Homo sapiens: one gene and its partners. The protein of the gene in region 5 purifies or fractionates together with the protein of the main gene of each other region. This does not show direct contact. Each region holds a gene or a part of one and is shown on either strand. Other genes may lie near its edges.

Region 1 (3,521 bases), on a different chromosome or scaffold from region 5:
AAAACAACAAAAAAGGGATGAAGATAATGCTAATGCAAATTAGAAAATGTTATAAATTTTAATCATATTTAAATAAACTTATATGTAAAATAATCAGTTATGAGAAAAGTATGGGACCAAAACATTCAAAAAGAAATAGAAAATCTGAATGGCCCTATGGCCATTAAAAATGTTGGTTTATTAGTTAAAAGTTTTCCTTCCCTCAATACTCACCTGAGTTTGGACAGATGCTAATTCCAGGGTTACATAAGCTTTTTCAAAAAACGGGGGGGAAAAGTAGCAATTCTCTTTTCATTTTCTGAGTCTTATGTACTACAATCTTGTTAAAAAAACTAGCAAGGAGAGTAAGAATGAAACTTAAAAGCTAGTCTCACTTAGGAACCTAGCAAAACAACCCCAAAATCCAGCAATGTATAAAACAGATAACATGACCAAATTTGACTTATTCTAGAAATGCAAGGTTTAATTAATATTAGAAAATTGTCCAAAATATTTACACATTAATGAAATTATGTTACTACACATTATAGGCCTTTGCATTATTGATTTAGTATAGTCTTAGTTAAATCTGAGAATGCCAGGTGGCTGGAGAGCATGTTGAATAACTAAAATTCAGTTTTGAGTGGAATACTGTGGACCACAGTAGATGGCACAATTAATTTGATTAAAGGGAGTCAGATGGTCTCTCAGAGGTGGCAAAATGTGAGTTAGGTCTTGATGAATAATATTTTTATCAGCATGTTTGAGATTTCAAGTGGAAATAATGGGTGCTGAAGTATGGCAGTGGCATTTGGGAATGGTAAGTGATATAATTAGAGCATGGTAAGGTTATCAGGAAGTGGCAGGAGATGAAACTAGAGATTTGTGCCAAATTGTGAAAGGCCTTGACTGCCTTGCTTCTTGCTAAACAGTGGAATTTATCAACCCACTGAGACAAAGTCAGTTAAGATTTTTGAGCCTTCCATATATTTAGCTGCTTATATTTAATGTCTTGTCTTTAAAAATAACACGTATGACTTGTTGTTTGCATGCTTTTGCATATATAACTTATTTGAAGTTAGGTGCTTCTACTGATTGACTTTGACTTTTTGTTCACAAAAATATAGGGATCTTGATTTATGACTGGACCACTTAATGTATTAATTTGCACTGTGTTATATCCTAAACTTTTAAAACTACTCATGACTAATGTCTTTCACCAAACTGTTACCTACGAACTTTCTAAAGAAATGTGTGACAAAGGCGTGATTAGTTTCATTTGCTCTGCCATTTTTAGCTGTATATGTGATAAAACATGTTTTAATACATCTCTTTTTAACTTCGATTTTATTTGGAATTTTTGAATGAGCTGTTTGTTTGTTTTTAAGCAAAGTAATTGGAGTGAACTTTCTTTGATTCCCAGGTTTTCTTTTTTCCCCTTTTTTCTTTTTTTATTGCATTGGTAGATGCAGGGCAAGAAATTTATTACTCTAAATTTGTGACTCAGAATTTTAAAACTAAATTAACTTCATAAATGCGCTCACTTTTTTCTTAATGCATTACGTCTAACCCCCAGTGATACTTTTATTTGATTTTCTTGATTATGTAATTTGTTTGATATTTCTTTTATTTAAGGTGTGACTGCACAGAAAAGTTACAAAACAAATTTGACTTTTTGCGCTCACAGTTGAATGATATTTCGTCATTTAAGAATATCTACAGATATGCCTTTGATTTTGCAAGGGTAGGTGCAATTTTCTTGTTTTGTTGTTTTAATAGCTTTTCATCTTGAGACCACACTTAGGAAAACTTTTTCACTTATATTTTAGGATAAAGATCAGAGAAGCCTTGATATTGATACTGCTAAATCTATGTTAGCTCTTCTGCTTGGGAGGACATGGCCACTGTTTTCAGTATTTTACCAGTACCTGGAGGTACGTATGTTTTTTCGAATTTTGAAAATATTATTTTAAAACTTAATCTGAAAGTTATACTTTTGAGGAACAAGTAGATTTTTAATAGTATGCTTTAAAAAAACTTTAGAGAAAAAATTCTAAAATATGTACATATCAGTTGCTATTTTTAGATAGAAGTTCATGTTTATTAATATATTTTGTACCTAAGATATTTTCAATCCTACCCCCCCAGTCCCCCAAATAAAAGAAACCTCCAAGAAATACATTGTATCACAGACATTTGTCTTGCAGAATTAGTTTCTCGGGGTTTTCATAAGAGAGTTAATGCTAGTACACAAACCTTTAAGCTTCTAAATCTGATTTTCTTCTTTTGTTACACAGGGTCTTAAGCTGAAATGTACATAAGAGAACCAATTTAGTAATAAAACTTTCCTTTTCTACTTAGGCTCAATCTAAAGAAACAGAATAAAGCTATTAATATTTTATGGCCACAAATATGAGAATGGCTATAATAGTATACTTAAATATGCTGGTTACTAAAAAAATGTAAGCTGAAATGATGACGTGTTCTTTTAGAAGGTTTATCATAGCAACTACTATAGGCAGTGATTCTAAGAAGATGCTATTCTTTTTTTCCATTGCTTTGTCTAGTTTTTTTTTTTTAAATCTGTTTTTGTGCCTTTGTAATTCTAGGGTTATTGGTATAGTTCTCACCATATCTTGAATACAGATGCTTTTTCCTTTGGAAATAATTTCTCATAAAGCACATTGCTTATAGCTGCTTCCCTTTTCCCAGAGTAGTAAAAGTTGTGATACAAGACAGTGATATCAGCTGGGCGTGGTGGCACACGCCTGTAATCCCAGCACGTTGGGAGGCCAAGGCAGGCAGATCACTTGAGGCCAGGAGTTCGAGACCAGCCTGGCCAACATGGTGAATCCCCGTCTCTACTAAAAATACACACAAAAAATTAGCTGGGTGTGGTGGTTTGTGCCTGTAGTCCCAGCTACTCGGGAGGCTGAGGCACGAGAATTGCTTGAACCAGGGAGGTGGAGGTTGCAGTAAGCTGAGATTGCACCACTACACTCCAGCCTGGGTGACAGAACGAGACTCTGTCTCAGAAAAAAAAAAAAAGAGACAATGATATGAAAAGGTCTTACATGAATGAGTTTTACGCATGATTCAATCTGTAAGTCCTATAAATTATTTTTGATGGATGGTATCTATTTTCTTCCTATTAGTAGTTTTGGGCAAAAATAAATTTAACTGAATGTAAAAATATTCAGCTCTATGGGGAGCTGAGAAGAACTAAATATTTTCAGACACTTGTTATGTGCAGGTTGTTTGGCATATATTTTTAAAAATCTTTATAATACCATTTTGAATTAAATTCTATCCCCATTTAACAAATGAGGAGGTGGTTTCTATTCTTAAGTAACTTTCCCAAAATCACTCAATTAAGTGGCAAGGGTGGGATTTAAATCGAAGCCTATACTCTTTCACTTGTTTCCAAAGATGCCAAACTCAAAATGTGGCTAAACAGTAAATCTTGAGCAAAGAAATGATTTACTAGGAAGCAGCACAATAGAACATACTGGATGTAGGAAATGTTATATATCTTGATCTCA
Region 2 (3,521 bases), on a different chromosome or scaffold from region 5:
GTGTGGCTTGCAAGCCATCCAACCGCAGAAGGCAAGATCCAGGGAGATAAACACATTCACTTGAAGAGGTCATCCTGAGCAGCTTCCAAAAACCAGAAACTACATAAGCTCATTATAAGAAATAATTTTAGTATGAGATACCAGGGGGAGAAAAAAAAGAACGTGTTGCCTCTAAAAAGAGAATGTTACTATTTAATGTAAATCTGCTATTTGCAGGGGTGTGGGGGTAGGCTTTTGAAAGATTATAAAGGTTTTGCCCAGCTGGAAGCCTATAGTTTCACAACATACTACTAGTTTGCAACCCCAAGATCAATGCCCACCTTTTAAAGTTCATTTTAAAGACTGTCTGTCTATATGCATGCTATACTTCAATAAAAACATTGAAGAAGAAAAAAAATATAGATACAGGCTCCTTCCTTTTTCCCAAACAGCATCAGTGGGAAGGATAGTGAGTAGAGTAGCCGCGCCTGCAAAGCTTCTAACCACTGTCTCCTCACAGGCTCAAGAGTCACCAATAATGTGGCATCCATGCTCCCTCACTGAGTATCTCTTAGTAGGTTGACTCTAGGACCACTGTGAAAATTAAAAAGCATTTCATTTTAAAATTTAGGTTCTCAATGAGTGACCCTGAAAATAGAATTGGCCCATCACGCTGGTGTTGGAAGACTGTGTTGACACAGGAATGAGGTAGTCAATTTGACTGCCCAACTCTTTCTTTGTGATAAGAAAGGATAATACAGATTTATTTTATTCACGCCCTAAATGTGGGGAAAACGCTATGTAACTTGATCTAATTAAAAAAGAACTTTTAAGTATTCACTTAAGATTATTCTAAAAATTACCCTAAAATATGTAAGCTCAGTTAATAATGGGTTAGCCAAAAAGGATTTCTGTAGAAGAGGTTAACCAATCATATTCAAGACATCTTACTGTTTTACAAATCCGAATGCGTGTAATTCCAAGAGAACTCAATAGAGCTAGTTTTTGTATTCCTGGGACTAAAAAATTATCTAAAACTCCTTGACTCTGGGATGTCAAGTTTCTTCTGGCCTCTTAGGGCTGCCAAGATCCCTGTTTTCCGTATAAATTGAAGCCCAAAACTCCTTGGTAAACCATTCTGGAAGGGACTGATACAGGCTTGGAATAATGTATATTAGCATGGCTGCCACAAGACAGAAAGGAAGATGCAAAAAAGCTCAGGCTGTGAAGGGATGAAATTGCAATACAACTAGAGGCTATTTACTGGTTTTTACCTTTTGATTCTGGAGCTTACAAACTGGTCTACCTATTTGTGTGTGGTGCAGACTTCCAAGCTCCCAGTGGTGCCCACCTCTTGGTATTTATGCCCTTGCGCGGTTCTCTCTCCTGGAGTGTGGGCTGGACCACACTTCGAATGAGCAGAATACTACAACATTGATGGGATGCCACTTCCCAGATTAGATAGTAAGAAACAGTGACTTCCGTCCTGCTTCCTCCTTGCCCTCTTGTTTGCTCATTCTGGGGGAGCCAACTGCCAAGCTGTGACCCGCTCTGTGGAGAGGAACCATGACAGACCTCTGGCCACAGCCAGCAAGGAGGAGCTTGGGCCCTCCGTCCAACAGTCCGTGAAGAACTGAATCCCACCATCAACTGCCTGTGTGAACGTGGAAGCAGGTCCACCTTCAGTTGAACCTTAAGATGACATCAGCCTTGGCCAACACCTTGACTGCAGTCCTGTGTCCTGTGAGGGCCATGGGACCCCGCTAAGCTGTACTCATGTCCCTGACCACAGAAACTGTGAGATAAGAGTATACGTTCTTTTAAGCCCCTGGGTTTTGAGGTCATCTGTTACTCAGAAATAGGTAATTAATACAGTAAGCAGAACTCTAAAGCAGGGTTGGCTTTTTTTGCAAAGGGCCAGATAGCAAATATTTTCAGCTCTGTGGGCCATATTGTTTTGGTCACAATTACTTAACTGTGCCATAGAAGCATGAAAGCTGAGGATATACCAACAAATGAGCATGGTTCTATTCCAATAAAACTTTATTTATAAAACCAGGTGGTGATTTGGCCCGCTAACTGTAGTCTGCCAACCCCTGCTCTAAAGTAAAGAAATCCTAATTTGGAGTTAAAAGGCAGATGATCTCCATTTTACTCCTGTGCTCAAAATTATTTTAACAATAAAACAAAAGCTAAATCTATCACAATAACACAATCTCAGGCAGCTGAAAAGAAAAGCAGATGTCCACAGAATTTCTGATTTTGGTAAACAATCTAAGAAATACAAATATATCTTTTATGACAGATACCTCTAATTGCATTTTTATGGAAAAGTTGAAGTCCAACACTGGAGATAAATCTGAGCCAGAGGAACCTACTGAATTAGTTGTTTACCACAACTATAATCTTAATAGCTCCTTAAGCACGCACTGGCTTTTCCCTCACACATCACGGATCTCCGGCAGTGGGAGATGATTACCTTTGCTTTTTGGCAATGGCGATGGAGGCTGCTCTGTAAACACTTCTAGGGCTGGGGAGTCATGGTGGTCGAAGTCTTTGTCCATGGCTTCTATGAGACTGGTGATGTCCGAGTCCTCGGAACTGTGCCTCGCGCTGCTGGCACGTTCTGGGTGGGAAGGGTGTGCGAGGGGGGCGGGAGACAGCCTTTCAGGCTGCGGCTCCTGGGGCTGAGGCACTGGCGGTGGCAGAGGAGGCTGAGGGTGCTGCTCCAGCGGGCTGTGGGCATGGTGCTGGCTGCCGTGCTGGCTCTGCTTTGCCCCTTTGGACTTTCTGCCCGCTGTATGACCTTGAGTCACTGTGTTCGAATCTAAGACAAGGGGGCTTGTTTTGTTAGCAGACTGTGAAGAAGCTGCTTGAGCAGAAGTCCTACTAGAGGTACTTGAACTGTTTTTGGCTCTGACGTTTTCCACGTCAGCTGAGTTTCTATTGCTGTGACTGCTGTGTGGGTGGACCGATGGGCCACACTGCTTATGACTCCCGGCACTGGGTCGGGATGATGAACCGCCTGCTCCACAGAACCCCCTACTGTGACCGGGGTCACAGCTGAGTGTGTTCAAGCTGAAAAAGGGACCAACTGCAGATCAGTAAATAGCAACCTACAAAATCTAATATTAAAAAAAAACTTCAACTTCATCAGTACAGCCACCATAAATATAAACTACACTAGGGAAAAAATAGCAAGAAATAGGGAAATTTCTACAACTCTCTAACATCTGTTCTATCTGAACATTTATAATTTACCATCAGTGATCTAACTAAAAGTATTTTAACCCTTACCAATATAATAAAAACACAGTATCCAGCATGAGCTCTAAGTCACTCAGAGTTCCATACAGGGTGTTATTAAGTAATCAGAATTAAGATTTTTTTTCTCCTGAGCAAAGATGAAAAGAAACTTATTTTTTATTGTAATTTTATCAGCCAAATCTATGTACACTAGGGAATTTATTGCCAGCATGTGAACATACTTTCCTTCAGATGAAATACCAACGATTCTCCTGAGATCAAATGGCCTTCCCACA
Region 3 (3,521 bases), on a different chromosome or scaffold from region 5:
TGCCCTTACAATTCTAAATTTTGGCTCCCTTTTCAGGGTTGGACATCACTATTAATTCAATGGCCTGGGCAAATGATGACAAGCCAAATCAGGCAGATTTTTCAGGGGCAGAATATTAGTTCTCACCATCTAAACTGAAAATGCTTATTTTACTAGACAGGTTATACTGGTTTGACTGTCTCTGAAGCATTCGGAGCTCACTTCTCCTCTCTCTGGGTTATAACATCTCTTTCCTGATTACAGGTTCCTTAAGAATTGACTGGAAATCAAGTTAGGTTTATATATGAAACCTCATCCTGGTTTTCTCACAAGATACTGGGTGCTACTGGGAGCTCAGTTTTGAACAGTTGGAAGCCATTTTGAATATTACCTCTGTCAGGGAGTAAATATGTGGAAGAACACTGCTGAGGAAATAATTGCCTTAATTTTTTGTTTTTATTTTGTCTTTTTTACTTCCCTCTTTTCAATCACCACGCTTTTCTTTCAAACTGACCTATCTAAAGTCCCTCTTATGAATGTAAAGTACAAATCCATGATATTTTTTATGCACAGTTGTCTTAGAAGATATATTTTAAATACTACATTAAAGATACCTTTCAATTTTTATCTACTTATGGCTAAATGAATAAGAAAACCCATTGGTTTTAATGTAGTAAAATACAATTATAAATCAGTGAAATACAGGACTTGATTATGCTCCTAGATACTGCCTGGACTGTAAGGATGCTTATGATTGGGGTATTAGGCTCATTCCTAGCAGTATGCTGAGTATCTACATGTTTACTTCAGCGACTTGAAATTTTAAGATTTTCCCTCCACAATATGATAGGTGAGAACCATGTCCCATTTTAGTGTGCAGATCCAAAGGAAAAGAGGAAGAGACCGGGCGTGGTGGCTCACACCTATAATCCTAGCACTTTGGGAGGCTGAAGCGGGCAGATCACCTGAGGTCGGGAGTTCAAGACCAGCCTGACCAACATGGAGAAACCCTGTCTCTACTAAAAATACAAAATTAGCCAGGCGTGGTGGAGCATGCCTGTAATCCCAGCTACTCAGGAGGCTGAGACAGGAGAATCGCTTGAACCCAGGAGGCGGCGGTTGCAGTGAGCCGAGATCACACCACTGCACTCCAGCCTGGGCAACAAGAGTGAAGCTCCATCTCAAAAAAAAAAAAAAAGAAAAGAAAAGAGGAAGAAACCCTTCTAATAAAAAGTCATTTAGACATAAATCATGAGAGTTCAGGGTACTTACTTGTCATCTGTCTTTCCTCCTAGACAATATATCATCCCTTTATGTGAAATCACATTATGGCCATAGACTTTGATAGGGAGTTTTTTTACTTCGTTCCATTTTGCAGCCCTAAAATTAAACGAGACAGAATTTATATACCTTCAGTAAATTCCAGGTTCTGAAAATATGAATATGTTGTAGGCACGCATATACTTGAATGCTTAGGGAACAGGAATATCATGCCAACTTACACAGGATCATAGCATAATACTGAATCCAGCGAAGCCTCTGTTTGAAGGTCTTTGCCTGCAACTACATAGATTTTATCATCCACCTCTCCCAGACCGAAGAGACACCTGGCTGAAGGCAGAGGTGGAAGTCCAACCCATTCAGATGCTATGCTATCGAGCTGAAAAAAACATATATGAGAGATTGTGGAGCCTGTTAGAAAAAAATTAGAAGTACACCAAAAAAAGTTATACTTTATATGTTGTTTAGAAGTCATCGAGATAGTCAAATATCTCACAAGTAAATAAAACTACAACCCCAAAGTATCACATTGTAGCTCATAATTACCAAGAAGAATGAGTAAATCTACTTGGCCTACCAGATAAAGATATCAAAATCTTCAAGGCTTCAAGAAAAGAAAAAATAAAATAGAATCACCAGAGGTTAATTACAACTGTGAGGTTTCTTGTCAAATTTTCTCCCATATTGCCTTGTTCAGCTTTGAAACAGGAGATCCTCATACTTTTAGGACACTGGGGAAAGAAAGGTTGTCATAACAAGGAGGGTCACAGAATGTGAATGACCCCTGCGTGCTATATTTAACATGCTCCCCATGCCGGCAGCTGGGACAGCTGGACCTGTCACTCAGTCCACAAACAACTGGGATGTTGGGCAATATCTTTTTTTCTTTCTTTAAAAACATTTTAGGTTCTCTGTGTTTTGCTTTATTATTCCTGATACAGGCAGGCGTTAAAGTGAATTTCCTAGTGTGTTGTTGGGAGTCCCTTGAAATACTCTTCTCTTTTTTAAAAAATTTATATTAATAAGTAACTGCTCATTTTTGGTCACCACCACTTCTGCAAGCTTAAGATTTTCCCAAGGAGGAAAATCTCCTTGTGCCCATGCCCTGGGGTAGATGATGGTGGCATCTGTTTCATCACTTACTTTTGGTAATTTAAATATTTTACACTTTTCATTTTAGCACACTAAGGCACAAGAAAACTGTTTTCTGCAAGAGTACAGTTGCAGATTTGTTGTTCTCTCTGGTACCACTTCTAGATTGCAAAAATAAAATGAATAAAACCCAGTTTCACTGGATACTAAGAATAGATGTGCATACAAATGGCTGTGGTATAGACAGGGGTGTCTGTGGAAGCCTATCTATATGTGGTCTAGTAACCTCAGTTAAACAAAGCGCTAATTAAGACTAGATGACATGAGAAGTTTAATCTCCACATGTGCATTCTTAGCTTTGCATTCACTAATTTCAACAGCTAGATTTTGATCCCTTATGTTTTCACTTTTGAAAGAAATTCTTTGATCATGAAGGTGGTATGTAATATAGTAGAAATAATAATGAACATTTATGGGGTTTTGACTGTTGTCATAGTCTTTGAACTAAATGCTTTACACAGGTAACCTCATTTAGTTCTCCAGGATAGGCATTTCTATCATCCCCATTTTACAGATGAGGAAACCGAGGCACAGGAAGATTAAATAATTTTCCCAAATACACAGAACTTTTAGGTGATATTCAAATCCAAGCCATGTACATTCACAGTTGGTTTTAAAAAATGGAAACAGCAGCCATCATAATCCCATACCTGTGGGCTTAACTCTCATACTGTACAGTACTGCCTACCTTCCCATATTACCTGTTAGAGGGCACTTTCTCTAGCAGATGGAACAGTAGACTACCTACCAGTCTCTTTTATAGAGGAACTATCAAGCTATTTAACTTCTCTGAGTTCAACTTTCCTCATTGTTAAAATTAGGGTTTGGACCTAGATTACTTTAAGACCTGTTCAAAGATTTGATGAATCTATTAATTCAAATTAATGAGTGGGGGAAAAAATCCTCCCTTACCAAGGTAAAAAATTCTCATAATCTATTTACAGCATACAATCAAAGGTCAAATTACTCCTAAATTAATGCATTTTAAATAGATGTGACCAAGCAGAAAAATATAAAACCTGAAATTCTCATGTAAATATTGTCTGATGAGTCACAACCCTCTTTTATGGTGAAGTGTTTTTATCCTGGCATACCGTTCTATTAGTGCC
Region 4 (3,521 bases), on a different chromosome or scaffold from region 5:
CTGACTATATTAAACCTTAGTTTTCCTTAAATGTTCCTCACTTTCTTTCTCTTAAGATTTCAAGCAAAATACCCCCAAAACAGAAATATCTTTAAATTTTTTACTCAGGAGGTTGAGGCAGGAGGATTGCTTGAGTCCAGGAATTGGAGACTGCCCTATGATCACACCCATGAGTAGCCACTGCACCCCAGCCTGGTCAAAATAGCAAAACCCCATCTTTAAAATATAATGTTACAAAATTGTATCTCTCCGCCATTCAATCTGCTGGAAAACATAATTTCAATCTCCCATTTACATCTGTTTATAAATACTGCCACATCAGTTTCATTCATCATTTCTCATGAAAGCCCCATCTCTGATGTTTATCTTCTTTTATCTATAAGCTATTTAAACTTTTAAAACTGTTTTTCCAAAAAAAATCTCTAATTGTAGCAAACTGTATTTATGGTTACCTATGGCTACCCTTCTTGTTCTTTGAGATACAACAATAATGCCTTTTCCTTTGTGTAAGAAATGGTATTAATAAAATTATTTAGAAATTTGAGGCAGCAAGTTATTGATTATTTCATCATACTTCCTCTAGCATACTCAAAATGATGGCTCTAAATAGCCCATTCAACAGGAAGAGGCATATTGCTTTCTGATTTCCAGATAAAGACTTAAATATGGAAAACATCTAAAATGACTAAAGATATTTTTTAATTTAAAAGGAAAAGGGGACATTGTATATCCAAAATCCAAAACCAAAAAGACAATAAATTTAAAAATACAAGCAGAAACCATGAAAATAAGTCCAGTAAGGCAGGAGAATGGGTTGGGGGAGGCTGGAAGGAAGAGTGCAGAAGAAGGGAATTCCTTTTTTCTGTATATATGAACCATCGTGAGTTTAGATTAATCTCAAAACTATGCATATGCTCAAATTCATATTGATTAGGTAACAAAATCATAAAACTATATTTTATTATTAATAGTTGTACCCTTTGCCATTCCATTTGAGGACTCAGAAGTCTATTAAGTAAACAGGAGACTGGGACAGAATTCAGTCAAGAACTCAGACAGCTCACTGACCTTTTAAGCCCAATGGTCTATCAGGAGAATAGCATATCAAAAGCTTACAGAACTAAACAGAGATTCGAGCAACCATCCACAATGGTCAACAGAGCTTATAGTTTGAACCTAACTAGGTTGATTGCCTATTAAGTAAAAACATTAACATGTTAGCTCAAAAAAGATTATGAAAGGTCAGGCGGACTATGAAATCTTTGAAAAGGAAATGGAAGTGAGATTATTCTGGGAGAATTTGGAGCTAACTAGACTATATCTTGAGTATGTTCTAGAAATTGCCTTACCAAGCCTAACATACCTCCTTTGGGAGGTAAGGTTTAATATTCTTACCCATCTTGTTAGAGCTAGAGATTAATATTTGCCCTAACCTGATACTTTAAGAGGTAAACTTTTTTTTTTTTTTAAAGACCTTCCTAGAGATATCTCTAAATTATTTTCGGCATTTCAGAAACTACATCAAGCAGCATGCTTGATTCAAGCCTATTGGAAGGGTTTTCAGACAAGAAAGAGATTAAAGAAGCTTCCATCTGCTGTGATTGCTTTGCAGAGGAGTTTCAGGTAAAAAAATTTGGTGAGGGGATTGATGATCATAGAATCTTACTAGAGTACAGTTGAATTGAAATTTAGGTGATTTTTTTTTAATTTCCTAGTATGTTTCTTGTTATCTTTTCATTTTTTTTCCATACGTTTCTGGGTACCAACACTCCAGTAACCAGATGCACTTTCAAAGCAAAGGATGTAAGACAGGAATCTGATGTGTCAAATATGCAATCCTATCCACTTAATAAGATATTTGGGGAGGGGCCAAGCCTACAAAGGGAGCCAATGATAGTTATATTATTAAACCCTCTAAACCAACAGTTATCATAATTTCGTGTGTATAATTATAACAATAACATGTATGCGTATAAGAGTTTAAGTCTGTTAACCTGATTTTCCTGAATAAATATGGCATGGATGGATATCTTCATTGAATTATGATATAGTTCGGCATTTATTTCAAGTAGACTGAAAAGGAAATACTGAAGACATAGCCCACTTTCTGCAATGACTTAACCAATCCAGATCCTCCAAGGTCACAGAACAAGAAAAAATAACTTAGCTTCTAGGTAATTTATGGTAAAGAAGATCTGTTTCAGAGGTGACTTTTTCATGCAGCCTAACTTAAAGCCAAGCTTTAGTTTGCTAAAATGAAACTGGCATTTTACAGAAGTTAATTCTTTAAAGAAAACTGAAACTATTCTTTTAATAACTGCAGATGCATTTCTCAGTTATAAAAACATTTAAAAATAGCTCTGGGGTTCAAAATACTATGTAGTCACAGAGTTGAAGACATTGAAATCACTCTAGCTAACTGTGTCTCTTAGTGGGTATCCTATTAATTGATGAACGTTTTCTTCAGGGAAGAATTAAAGATGGATTTTAAATATTATTGGGCATGAATATTGTTGGTAGCAAAGAAAAGAATTAATTTTTAAATATATATCAAATGCCTAGTATATGATATATGTACTAGGCATTTAACAGATTCGAGTTTGTATCTCACTTGAGCAGCTTACTGGTTGAGTGAACTTGGACAATCCCCCACCTCTCTCAGCCTCAAACTTCCAATCTATAAAATGAGAATAATAGTTTATACACTTGTATGATCAAGATAATGTAAAATTTGAGATAATACAAAGTTTTTAGCATATTATCTGGCACTTAAAAAATGATAGAAGGAAAAATGCATATGGCACATTTTCTGTCCTTGAAAATTTACAAATCTAGGTAAACAAATAGATGCATTAAATAGGTAGTACTAATGAGAAGCAAGTATTATCCATCTATTATTACTCAAAGTTTATTGCCTATCTTACAAGCTGTTTTTTTTTTAAAAGCATTTCTGTGGTTAGATAAATTTGGGAAATATTGAGTACTTTTTGAGTCACAGTGTATATTTTTCTACCCAAAGCATCTGAGGTGCTCTTGGTATTGCCTCTGTGGTGAATTCAGATAGAGTAGGTATTACTTATGGATTCCACCTGCTATCATCCTTAGTTACCTGTCATCTTAAATTTAAGGGTACCCTTATACATGGATTCAGAGCATTAATGTTTAGTCCCACAAGAGTTCCCAAATTTGCTCATATACTCTCTCTTTCAATATTAAAATCTCTATTTAAAAGTAGCCCAGGATTACAGATTTTTTTCTACTTAGAAGTGTATCTATGGAATCTAATATTCCATTATTTTAAAATAGAAATTCCATTGCTTTCTTTATGTAACCAGAAGAGTTATAAATACTTCCATTAAAAAGATAAGCTGTGAAGCAAAAATTATTTAAGTCTCACATTTTGTGTTTGTTGCCTTTCCAGTATTTTTGCATTTGAGGTTCCAGAATATACTGAAATGCGGTTCTAACCTGTTGGATTCTATTTAATTTTTTAATTTTCAGTTTTCTCCAGTTCAGCACCT
Region 5 (3,105 bases):
GAAAAAAAAAAAAAAAAAGAAAGAAAGCAAAAATCTAGCAACCTCAGGAAATGGTAGGCCCTTGATATCATCTAGGATTTTCTCCACATCTAGTCTGTAATAATCTACTTCATACCCAAAGAAGCTAATTTTGCTTCTATTTGTGGATTTATTGTTATGTGGCTGGCCTCATGTTTCCTGAAAGAAACCTGAGCAGAAGGGAAGGGAAGTAGCATGCGAAGTGGTTTATGAGTTATTTCTTTTGAGCTCATTCAATCTTGGTGTGTTGGGTATCATTAGATGCATTTTATTATTGTGGAAACTGAGGCTTTGGTTATTGACTGATTCCTCAACAAGTAGTGGGAGGCTTCTAGCCTATGTCCATCTTGTTCCAAAGTCTGTGCTCTTTTCTCTGCCTCTCTGCGAATGTGGAATCCTTCTCCTTTTCAGTTTAAGCTTCCAGGACACTTACATTTCCCACTCACCCCTCCAGCCACCCAACCCATGTTTAAGAAAAACAACTTGTAAGGTATGTTTTTATTTTACAAAAAAAAAAAGTGACATGCAATAACCCATCTTCTAACAAACTATTAACGCTTGGATTACAGGGTAAAAAGGAAATCCAACCAGCCCTGATGAAAAAAAATTCGATTTCACAAAGCTGAAAAAATCTATTACAAAGTTTCTGTTGTATAAATATAGTCAGTCTTATCTTTAATGTAGTCAGACAAAAAAAAGTTTTGTTGGCACTAAAACAAAAACAAAAGCAAAAACCCTACTGCTTGAATACACCACAATCTTCATTTGTATTCCCAGCCAAATACAGATGATGTCTATAGCATGACAGTTACTGCATGTTCCAGGACTCAAGGTAACCAAATGAGATTTAAACATTTTATCATACTCCCTCTACCAACAACAGCTTGGACAGACCACTTTAGCCCTGGGTCAAGGACTAAAGCCTTTGTTCATAGAAAATTGAACATGTAGGCCAGGCACGGTGGCTTACACCTGTAATCCCAGCACTTTGGGAGGCCGAGGTGGGTGGATCACTTGAGTCCAGGAGTTTGAGACCAGCCTGGCCAACATGGTGAAACCCCATCTCTACTAAAAACACAAAAATTAGCTAGGCGTGGTGGCGCATGCTTGTAATCCCAGCTACTGGGGAGGCTGAAGCAGAAGGATCACTTGAACCCAGGATGGGGAGGCTGCAGTGAGCCAAGATCATGGCACTGCACTCCAGCCTGGGCAACAAAGCTGACTCTGTCTCAAAAAAAAAAAGGAAAAGAAAATTGAACATGTGTTTGCTCTCAAGTGGGCGGACAACTCTGTGAGTTTGCTGAAAACCATTGAATCGTATGTTTTAAAGGTGAATTGTGTAATATGTGAATTATATCTCAATAAAGCTGTTAAAAATATATGACATGCCTAACTTGCTAGGGGAGCAACAGGTGACCCCAGTAGCGTAACTCAGGAGTTCCTGACAGGTCACAGGGCAGACCTGCAGAAGTCAGCACGGTAAGGGGTAGTAAAAAGTAGCTCCTTAAAGTATTATGGCTAAAATCAGTGGAGTCAGAATAAAGAAGTCAAAGACATATGTAATTTTTCCTACTGTTTCCGGAATAGTCTAAGGGCTGTCTGTGGCCTTTGTCACAAAAGAAAGCTATTCAGTGAGACAGCAGGTGCCCAAGTATTGCTGAGGCTACAGAAGACTTTAGGCTGGAGCTCAGGAGCTGCGTATCTGCATCCACACTGGGGGAAGTTCCAACATGGACACAGGTTCTGAGAGCCTGACTCCTACAAAAGGAGGGGAGAATTTGGATACCCAAAGAAAAACTGGATTTATTAAACCAAAGGGACTCCCTGCCGTCACCAACACTGTTGATGGCCAGGGACCACAGCCTGGCTCTAGTTCTCATTGACTCTTACAAAGCCATTGCCAGGGCAGCAGTGGCTAATCAGATGAGCATTTTGTGGCAGACTAGTCACTTGCAAATGCCATCCCCTTTCTATATCTACCATCTGGTCACCAAATGGTCACTGGAGAAAGGGCACAGGCACAAATCATGGGCAATTGGGGCTTGACCAAGGGAAGGTCACCCTAGCCTGATAGTGATGGAGGCAGAACTGCCAGTAGAAGAAAGAAGAAGGTAATTTAAAGTCTTGCTCTGGTTTTACCCATTCTAGGTACTTAAAAGTTCATTGATAATAGTTTGTGTAAAATTGGGGAAAATGGGCATAGAAGACACCCACTCTACTCACCTTTCAGAAGGGATGTTGCCAGAAATTGGACCAGAAGTCTCTTTAGTTTTTTATCACACAAAGCAATTGAGAATGAAAAAAAGAGAAAGATAGGGGCTTAATAGTGAGAAGTATCCCAGCTTGGTGAACACCTTGTTTATTTTTAAATTTTTTAGAGACAGGGTCTCACTGTGTTGCCCAGGCTGGTCTTGAACTCCTGAGCTCAAGCCACCATTCTGCCTTGGGATTACAGGTGTGAGCCACCATGCTGGGCCCAGTGAAAATCTTGTTAAACTCTCCTAGCCTTCCTTCCTTGAAGACTGGTTTGATTCTGGTGCTGGCGTATGGGCCTGGGATTCAGTTCCTTTTTTGGCCAGCCTAGACGTTTATTCTGTGCCTGAGCAGATGCGTTAAGCTTAGAAGCAGACATCACGGCCACCTCAGGCCCATGCCATTGTGGGCTGTATCCCCTAAAGTGCCCCATTAAAATCTTGGCCTCCTTGTGCTCTTTTCAAATAAGAGACCCCTGTTCCATAATATGGCCCAAACTTCTAGGACGGGGGCACTCAAGGATGGGGAATTTTCCTCACTGACAGGGTTTGCTATGTCTGTGGGTAAACCCAACAGAGGATAAGGCTGGAACATCTGGGTTTGGGGCTTACCTGGTTCTTTTCAGTGTCATAGAGTGATAGTGGAAGGTTTAAAAAAAAGATAGGGAGGATGTATCCACCAGGGCTTTGGGCATTTTCTTGATGAACTTATTCCTTTGGCTTCAGTGAGAATATCTATCATTTACTTAAGAGAAGGCAATGAGCTACGTGGTTTAAAAAACAAATAAAAGGCTGAGTGCAGTGGCTTATGCCTGTAATCCCAGCAGTTTGGGAG

The links.
Region 1: the proteins of ELAPOR1 (region 5) and DCUN1D5 purify together in Homo sapiens (affinity purification with mass spectrometry; one large-scale study listed by BioGRID and IntAct). This does not show direct contact.
Region 2: the proteins of ELAPOR1 (region 5) and TMEM131 purify together in Homo sapiens (affinity purification with mass spectrometry; one large-scale study listed by BioGRID and IntAct). This does not show direct contact.
Region 3: the proteins of ELAPOR1 (region 5) and KLHL41 purify together in Homo sapiens (affinity purification with mass spectrometry; one large-scale study listed by BioGRID and IntAct). This does not show direct contact.
Region 4: the proteins of ELAPOR1 (region 5) and IQCB1 purify together in Homo sapiens (affinity purification with mass spectrometry; one large-scale study listed by BioGRID and IntAct). This does not show direct contact.

What each region holds. Positions count from the first base shown.
Region 1 is NC_000011.10:103,064,661-103,068,181, reverse strand, and holds part of DCUN1D5 (DCN1-like protein 5), read left to right. Parts: intron 1-1,614; coding exon 1,615-1,723; intron 1,724-1,808; coding exon 1,809-1,913; intron 1,914-3,521. UniProt on the Homo sapiens protein: Contributes to the neddylation of all cullins by transferring NEDD8 from N-terminally acetylated NEDD8-conjugating E2s enzyme to different cullin C-terminal domain-RBX complexes which is necessary for the activation of cullin-RING E3 ubiquitin ligases (CRLs).
Region 2 is NC_000002.12:97,789,928-97,793,448, forward strand, and holds part of TMEM131 (transmembrane protein 131 precursor), read right to left. Parts: coding exon 3,468-3,521; intron 3,058-3,467; coding exon 2,459-3,057; intron 1-2,458.
Region 3 is NC_000002.12:169,512,692-169,516,212, reverse strand, and holds part of KLHL41 (kelch-like protein 41), read right to left. Parts: intron 1,640-3,521; coding exon 1,482-1,639; intron 1,360-1,481; coding exon 1,252-1,359; intron 1-1,251. UniProt on the Homo sapiens protein: Involved in skeletal muscle development and differentiation. Regulates proliferation and differentiation of myoblasts and plays a role in myofibril assembly by promoting lateral fusion of adjacent thin fibrils into mature, wide myofibrils.
Region 4 is NC_000003.12:121,793,559-121,797,079, reverse strand, and holds part of IQCB1 (IQ calmodulin-binding motif-containing protein 1), read left to right. Parts: intron 1-1,513; coding exon 1,514-1,623; intron 1,624-3,521. UniProt on the Homo sapiens protein: Involved in ciliogenesis. The function in an early step in cilia formation depends on its association with CEP290/NPHP6.
Region 5 is NC_000001.11:109,204,178-109,207,282, reverse strand, and holds the end of ELAPOR1 (endosome/lysosome-associated apoptosis and autophagy regulator 1), read right to left. Parts: 3' UTR 502-3,105; downstream 1-501. UniProt on the Homo sapiens protein: May protect cells from cell death by inducing cytosolic vacuolization and up-regulating the autophagy pathway. May play a role in apoptosis and cell proliferation through its interaction with HSPA5.